Homo sapiens: one gene and its partner. The protein of the gene in region 2 purifies or fractionates together with the protein of the main gene of each other region. This does not show direct contact. Each region holds a gene or a part of one and is shown on either strand. Other genes may lie near its edges.

Region 1 (3,815 bases), on a different chromosome or scaffold from region 2:
CAATTTCCAAAAGCTGCTAAGAAGTTAAACATTCATTTTCAAGCTTCCAAATGTTCCCATGTCAAAATGGTTGCATCAAAGGGGCCAGGTCAGAATTTCCTACATATATTCTGGGGTAGATTCATGCAGTGGGTCACAGCAAGTCCTTGCTACCACTACAGTAACCACAGAAGTATTATCAAATACTGCATTAATACTTACCAGCTGAGTTACACCCAGCATTACTTATTATCCTAACATTCCTCTAACATTTGCATACAGATTTTTGCAGTTTATTATAATATTTTTATACATAAAGAGCACATAAAATGCAGATGTGCCCTCTCTCTAGGGAATACCCAATCAACACTGCGTATTACTATACATATTTGCTCAGGCCAGTCAAGGAAAGCCTGATGAGCCTTGAGCAAACAATGGCCCCACTCTGAACAGATAAAGAGTACTCTGTCCTCTAGAATCAATACACCTTCAAATACAGGTAGGCAGACAGTAACCCTTCAAGTGGGCACACATACTCAAGTTCCTCTCTTTGAAGACCTATATCCAGTATCTGAAATTTATTGGTGGCATTTACCCACTAGGGAAAACAATTCTAATTATACATGGAAGTTAATCAATCATATTAAATACATAAAATAGTATACCACTTTATATTTCTTATTTCTTTTCCAGTATGATTAAAGCACACTGAAGGTAGAAAGAATCTTCATCAAGTGCTTTGCAACTCTGAGCAGGGAGCATGAAATATTTATCACTACACTATAAAGGTACAACAATAATACAACAATTAAAATGATAATAAGATACATAATAAAATGTGACTTTCAGTACTAAGAACAGAGGATAGGGAAAAAAAAAGAATGCCTAATTTCTAGTTAGTTGTCTAGGGCTCCTTGAGTGATGTGAAATTTTGACATTTCAGAACAATAATAGAAAAAAAACAAAGAACAAATGAGAAAGAGAAGGCAATGTAAAACAAATGTTAAAGGCAAAAGTAAATCAAATCAGCATGTAAAGAAAATATCCACAAAAGTATACCAATCATCCAGAAGGTACCTTTGTTCAGAAGAGGAAGGAAGTCAGGTGCTTTTTCCCGAAAAACCCTTTGAGCATCCTCAGCTTTCATGGACACTTCCTTTGTCTGAACTAGGAAAAAGCCTTTACCAACCATCTGTGAAAATAAAATTTCATTGAGATTTTAAAATGAACTTCTGAGACTAAAACAATGATTTCCTATTCTAGTATTTCTCTGTATAAAATGCAACAACAGCACACTGATTTTTGTTTTAATTATAAGTCTAATTCAGGGTGTTTGCTATAATAAGTTCTCACTATATGAGATTCTTTCTTACAGATGGGTGGTTCTGGTTTAGTACTGCAGTTAAGGTTAAGGGTCAAATAAATGTGAATTATCTCTCAAGTTTAAAACATGATTAAAATTTTTCTACAACCAGATGGAAGTTTTAGTTTGGTGATACTGCAAATGTCCAATAAGAAGAGAATGGTTAAGTAAATTATGGTACAGTCACATGATGAAATGCCACAGTTCATTACATTTATCACAGTTCATTAAATACAACAAAGATGTTATAATAAAATGAGGAAAAGCTTATGTAATAATGTTAATTTTACTTTTATTTGTTTATTTTTCTTTCTTTTTTTTTTTTTTTGAGATAGGGTGTCACTCTGTTGCCCTGGCTGGAATGTAGTGGTGCAATCATAGCTCACTGCAGCCTCAAACGCCTGGGTTCAAACGATTCTCCCACCTCAGCCTCCCAGGCAGCTAGCTGGGACTACAAGCTCGTGCCACCATGCCTGGCTAATTTTTAAAATTTTTTTTGTAGAAACAGGTTCTTGCCATGTTGCCAGGCTGATCTTGAACTCCTGGGCTCAAGCCATCCTCCTGCCTCAGCCACCCAAGATGCTGGAATTATAAGCATGAGCCACTGTACCTGGCCAATAATGTTAATTTTAAAAGGCATGATACAAATTTATATAGTATAGCACAATAATGGTAGATCACACTTATGGAGCACTTACCATGTGGCAGGCAGTTTTATGTACTTTACATATATATATTTAACCCTCTCACGAAGTAGGTATCATTACCCTCATTGTACAGATATGAAAACTAAGGCGCACAGTGATTAAGGAACTTGCCCAAGGACATTCAACAATTAAGTGACAGAGCTGTGATTCAAACCTAGTTAATCTAATTACAGACTAAATAAATTTAAAAATGATTCCTAAAAAGATTATTCAAGGTATGGTACAATTATGTATTGATTTTAAACTTATTTTACTCTTTCTTATTTCTATAATTCTCCACAATGAGGGCATATTAATTTTTAAAGTAATTATGAAAGTAGTTTTTAAAAATGCAGTCAGCCCAGCATCATGGCTCACACATGCATCCCAAGCACTCTGAGAGGCCAAGGTGGGAGGACTGCTTGAGACCAGGAGTTTGAGACCAGCCTGGGCAACACAGCAAGACCCCATCTTTATAAAAAAAAATTTAAAATTAGCCAGGTGTGGTGGTGTGTGCCTGTAGTCCTAGCTACTCAGGAGGCTGAGGTGGGAGGATCCCTTAAGCCCAGGAGTTAGAGGCTACACTGAGCTATGATCTCACCACTGCACTCCAGCCTGGACAATAGAGCAAAACCTTGTCTTTAAAAAAAAAAAAATGTAGTCATATTCCAACCACTTAATTTTTAGCAAAGCTTGTTAGGTTTTTAATAATTAAAAGTAACATATATTCTCAACACAGAACATTTGAAAAATAAAAAATAGAAATGAAGAAATATCAACCAGGGTGCTGCAACTAAAAGATGCTACTGCCATACAGGTATACCCTCCCAGTTTTCTTTTTCTCCCATTACAGAAATAATATATGCTCACTGTTAAATCCATAGAACTACAAAAAAAGAAAACCCTGCTGTTAATCAACTGCCTAAGAATAAGCATGCCTGTTAACATTTAAGTATCTATAACTTTCCAGACTTACCTACTTAAAAAAATCAGTTACTTACCTAATATTCTACAAATTTTCACTTACTTAATTGTGACATTTTCTACATAAAGTCAGTTTTAATGGCTGATAGTATTTCATCCTATGGCTACATTATTCCATACCATTCCATCGAATTTTATTAAACTCAAATCCTATTTCAGAACCCTCATTCAATGCTGCCTCCAAAAAAAGAAACATACATTTAAAAATTGTAGAGAATTACATGGACATCACTGCCAGATGACTGTAAAATAAAAATATCAGAAACAATTCTACCTCTCTTATTTTCTAGAGTGCTTATCATCTCTGATTTTATAAACACAAACTGATGAGATTATGATGATTACTTCAAAATAATGTTACCTAAATAATAAACTATATTTTAATATTTCACTGCAGATATTTGAAGAGACTCCTTTTCATGAAAATTCTACTTTTAAAGACTTGAAAATAGTGGTAACTACCCAACTTCAATTTCAGATGATGAAGTACTCTCAAACTATTTTACTCTATTTTATCCTGTACATATCTGTGATGTAGGTAAGAGAAGTCGAGGAAAGAAAAACAATTTTTATTGTTTGTTTGTTTTTGAGACGGAGTCTTGCCCTCTCGCCCAGGCTGGAGTGCAGTGGTGGGATCTCAGCTCACTGCAACCTCCGCCTCGTGGGTTCAGGCAATTCCCTGCCACAGCCTCCCGAGTAGCTGGGATTACAAGCACCCACCACCACGCCTGGCTAATTTTTGTATTTTTAGTACAGACGGGGTTTCACCATCTTGGCCAGGCTGGTCTTGAACTCCTGACCTC
Region 2 (4,252 bases):
CATTGGCACCCGCCAGCCTACCAAGGGCCCAGGCCTTACTAAAGGCCAGAGTCCAGTAAGGTGCCAGAGAGCAGATCATCTGGAGGGCCCTAGCATGGCTGGGAGCCCGTATTGGAAACAGCCACCCTGAACCAGCACCATTATCACCACAGTCCAGGCCCTAGGGTGACTTCTCTCCATCCCAGCCATCCTATTCAGTGTACTCAGAACTCTGGGGCCCTGGTGACACCCAAATCCCTCCCCACTGCGTCAAAGCCCTTCACAGTCTCGTTACTCCCATTGACCTTTCGGGCCTCACCTGCCCCCACATGCCATGCTCTCGCCACTTCCCAAACACATCCCCGTTTAGGGTCCATGATCATTGAGTGAAAAACCAGCACTTGGCTCTCCTGGACATTCACTGGGAACTGACCGTAAATCCACCCTGAACAGGGCGTGCCCTCCCTGGGCACCATCCCAGTGTCTTCAGGGTGCCATGAGAGGCAGGGGCGGCACATGCCTTCACCTCCCTTCATGGTATGGGTGCAGAGGGAGGGAGTCCCTGTCATGACAGCCTCTGGATGACATGCCTGTGGACTGGGCAGGGCAGGGCAGAGACCCTGGTCACTGTCTCTACCAAAGGGGAAATGGTAAAAGAGGAAGTCACCAGATCTGCTTTGCTCAGATGCTCCTTACCCTGGTCAGGCTGTGTGGCCCCTAAAAATAGCAGTGGCCACTTCCTGAGCCCATCTGCGCCTGGAACTAGGAAAAGAGCCATCCACATGCCTTTCACCTCAAGTAACACTGGGAGGGGACAGCCTTACTATTTCCACTTAACAGATGGGGAGACTGAGGCTGCAAGAGGTGGAAATGGCCTTGCCTATGGTCCCTTCCCCTTGCCCAGGGTCTTCTGTATCACATCGCTGGTCTCTCTTTCCTCCACCACCATTTCAGGATCCACCCCTAGAGGATTCTGATCTTCTGACAGTCAAGGTCAGATCCCTGCTCTGTGCCCAGGAGCTGCTTATCCAACTGCCCACCGTGAGGTCTCCCAGGGCTAAGGCCAGCAGCCTCACTCCCTGAGAAGCTGGGCATGTTAGGACTCCTGCTGCTCTGTGATTCTGGGTGGGGTCTGAGGCTCTTCTGCTGTGACCAAGGATAAACAGACTGACTGAATTGATGAGTGCGGTTAGCATCAATCCAGGCAAAATGGCTATGTGCCATTTTGTGTGCCACAGACCACATGCTTCCTAATGCCACGCCCCTCAGACTTAGAACTCTGCAGGCCAACCCAGGACTCCCTGAGGCCCTCAAGATAAAGTTCAGATGACCCAACCAGTCACAAGTCCTGTGCAGTCCACTCCTCCTGTGACTCGATCCCAGGCAGCCTGAGATGCTCACGTCTCTCCCCGACCCATTACTCTCTCCTGGCCTTAGCTCCAGCTATATACTCCAGGAAGCCTTACTTGACACCCACCCATCCAGGCTGGGTTGGTGGATTCTCTGTGCTTGCCCCACACAGACTTCCTCTCTGGGGATCACTGTTATTCCTATCCTGCAAGCTTTGGGGAGGCAGGGCCAAGTCTGCCCAAATCCCATGGTGAACCTGGGCCTAGTATCCCCCTGGAGCTTTTCCTGGCTGGGAACTCCTGGTGGGGCCTGCCTGGCACCACCCTACCTGCCAACTCTACCCTTCTGTGATTTGCATCGTCCCCATTTAAAGTACTCTCAGCAGAAAGAGCATGGAGATCATGCTGCACTAGACTCCACGTGTAATTCATGCCTCAGATGCCTCTGCTTTCAGGAATCCTGGCTGGCCACGGACACACCAGCTCTGGATGGGAGTGACGGCCTCAATGAGGCACCCAAGGCCCCCCAGACAGAGGTCTCATCCCTGCCCATCCCTGCAAGGAAATACAGTGGCCGTTGTAGAGTTGCCAGGGTTGTGATCAAGGAGCGGGGTGAGCAGGGGAGGTCACCGAGCCTCCACATAGTCTAGTCCAAGCATGTGTGGCAGGGTAAGAGTACAAGCATGTTGCCTGACACAGGTTCATGGCCATTGTCCCAACCCTTTCCCCTGACTTCAGTTGTCTTCAGTTTCCCTTAGGCCTTTTCCCTCAGGCAATGCCACACATCTGATAAGTTGTGGGAGTTGGTGGCCAGCTAGGACAGCAATCCTTTCCCTAAGGAGGTTCCTTTCAGCAATGCCTTCTGGCATATGTGGCATTGGAGGGGTCGAGGGTGACAGCCTCCTAACCAGGCCCAGGTCGATGCAGAAGTCAACTCAGGAGCCACTCTACACACCCCCACCATCCCTCAGGAGTGGGGCTGAAGCACCTGTCTTTCCAGCTTAAAAATGGGATAAGGGGAGGCAAGGCTTGGGAATGATGCGGACAGGTGGAACTATGAATAACCAGATGGTAACTCTCCCACTCACCCCCATTTTCTACCAGGACAGGAGGTGGGGAGCTGACCACACCCGCGCCCAGCATGGCGGGAGGTGAGCCGGCAGATCTAGATCACCTAAGTGACAAGACAGATACCAATACGCTCCCCCATTTCGTGACTGGAACAGAAGCAGACCGGGAAGGCAGCCCCGCCCGCGGCCCGTCCCGCCCGACCGACAGATCCACCACGAGACCCGTGCCTCACCCAGCACCACTGGGGGGTGACGTCCGGCCGGGAGCGCTGGGTCCGCGAGCAGCATTAGCAGCAGCAAGAGGAACAGGAGGCCATCCGGGAGCAGCCCCACACGGTAGGGGCGGAGGTGGAGGCCCATGGTGTACGACGGTCGCCGCAGGTCCGGGATGCAGGTTCAGCTCTCTGGGCTCTCGCCTAGGCGGGGGCGGTGGCGACGCGCTTAACCCCGCCGCCCGCATCCCCCGCATCCCCCCGGCCAATCAGGGCCCGCCTCCCGCAAATGGCTGGCCAATAGGGACTCGCCGCCATATACGCCCCTCCCAGTCGGAGGTCGCCGCCCCGCCCTTGCCCAACCCCCTGCTTCCTGGACCACGCTGAGCGCCGAGCGCATCGATGGATCGAGGTATCGCCTGGCTCCGGGCTGTCAGTCGCCCACCCGGGAACCCAGCTCGCCGCTGCTGTACCCCGCCCAGCCCTGGGTACCCGAAATCCACGCTGCGCAGCTCTCACTTGGCGACCCCCTGACCTGGAGGATCTGGAACGGACAAGACCGGGAGAGGATAAGGGGTGCAGCGCTGGCCGCTGCTGAGCGACCCCGGTTAAAGCAAGAAGAGAGGAAGTGAGTCCCGGACAGTTCTTGGGCCTCAGGTGACCAGGAGCTGACCAGGACCTTTGTGCAGCCCCCACACCAATTCTTAGCACACCCTGCCCCGAGGGCACCTGGGTGCGGCCAGTCAGCCCCTGTAACTCTGCCCCGGGGTTACAGATGCGGGGGGAACCGGGAGAGGCCAGGTCAGCATGTTCAGTTCCCAAGAGAGGGGTTAATCTGTTCGTTTTAGGGGCGCAGAGTGCAGCGTCACCCCGCCAGTCCGGGCAGTTCGGGCGCGGGGTTGGGAGTGGGCTTGAGTCTCGACCCTGCGCCATGGGCCATCTGCAAGTTCCCCTGCAGAGCAGGAGAGGCATCGGGAGCTCGTGGTCCCCCTCCACTCTCGCAAACCTGGGGAACCAGAGAGGACATGGACTCCCTGCGCCAGGAAGCAGGGGCGAACAGAGTGGGCAAAGACCTGACAGCTGGTTATATGCCAGCACCATAGGTCACTGTGGGATAGAGGGACGAGAGTATTTGGGAAATAGAGGTCTTGATCCTCCACACACCCACCCCTTCGAAGGGGCAGCTGCACCCTGGTCATCCCACCTGGTCCCAAGAAATTTGTCCTGCCCCTTCCTTCCTTCTTCTTGGTAAGCAGCTGACCTGGCTATGAAGCCACTATCTTGCCCTGCCCTTCTCGAGTTCTTATAGTGAAACATGTTGGTGACTGGGCTACCACCACCCTCCCTCTTTCTTTTTTCTTTTTCTTTTTCTTTTTTTTTTTTTTTTTGAGACAGAGTTTCGCTCTTGTTGCCCAGGCTGGAGTGCAATGGTGCAATCTTGGCTCACCGTAACCTCCGTCTCCCGGATTCAAGCAATTCTCCTGCCTCAGCCTCCCGAGTAGCTGGGATTGCAGGCATGCGCCACCACCCTGGCTAATTTTGTATTTTTAGTAGAGACGGGGTTTCTCCATGTTAGTCAGGCTGGTCTTGAACTCCCAACCTCAGGTGATCCACCTGCCTCGGCCTCCCAAAGTGCTGGGAT

What was found.
Region 1: the proteins of PLA2G15 (region 2) and RP2 fractionate together in Homo sapiens (co-fractionation; one large-scale study listed by BioGRID). This does not show direct contact.

Annotation. Positions count from the first base shown.
Region 1 is NC_000023.11:46,857,344-46,861,158, reverse strand, and holds part of RP2 (protein XRP2), read right to left. Parts: intron 1,172-3,815; coding exon 1,057-1,171; intron 1-1,056. UniProt on the Homo sapiens protein: Acts as a GTPase-activating protein (GAP) involved in trafficking between the Golgi and the ciliary membrane.
Region 2 is NC_000016.10:68,243,933-68,248,184, reverse strand, and holds the start of PLA2G15 (lysosomal phospholipase A and acyltransferase isoform 1 precursor), read right to left. Parts: upstream 2,813-4,252; 5' UTR 2,759-2,812; coding exon 2,632-2,758; intron 1-2,631. UniProt on the Homo sapiens protein: Has dual calcium-independent phospholipase and O-acyltransferase activities with a potential role in glycerophospholipid homeostasis and remodeling of acyl groups of lipophilic alcohols present in acidic cellular compartments.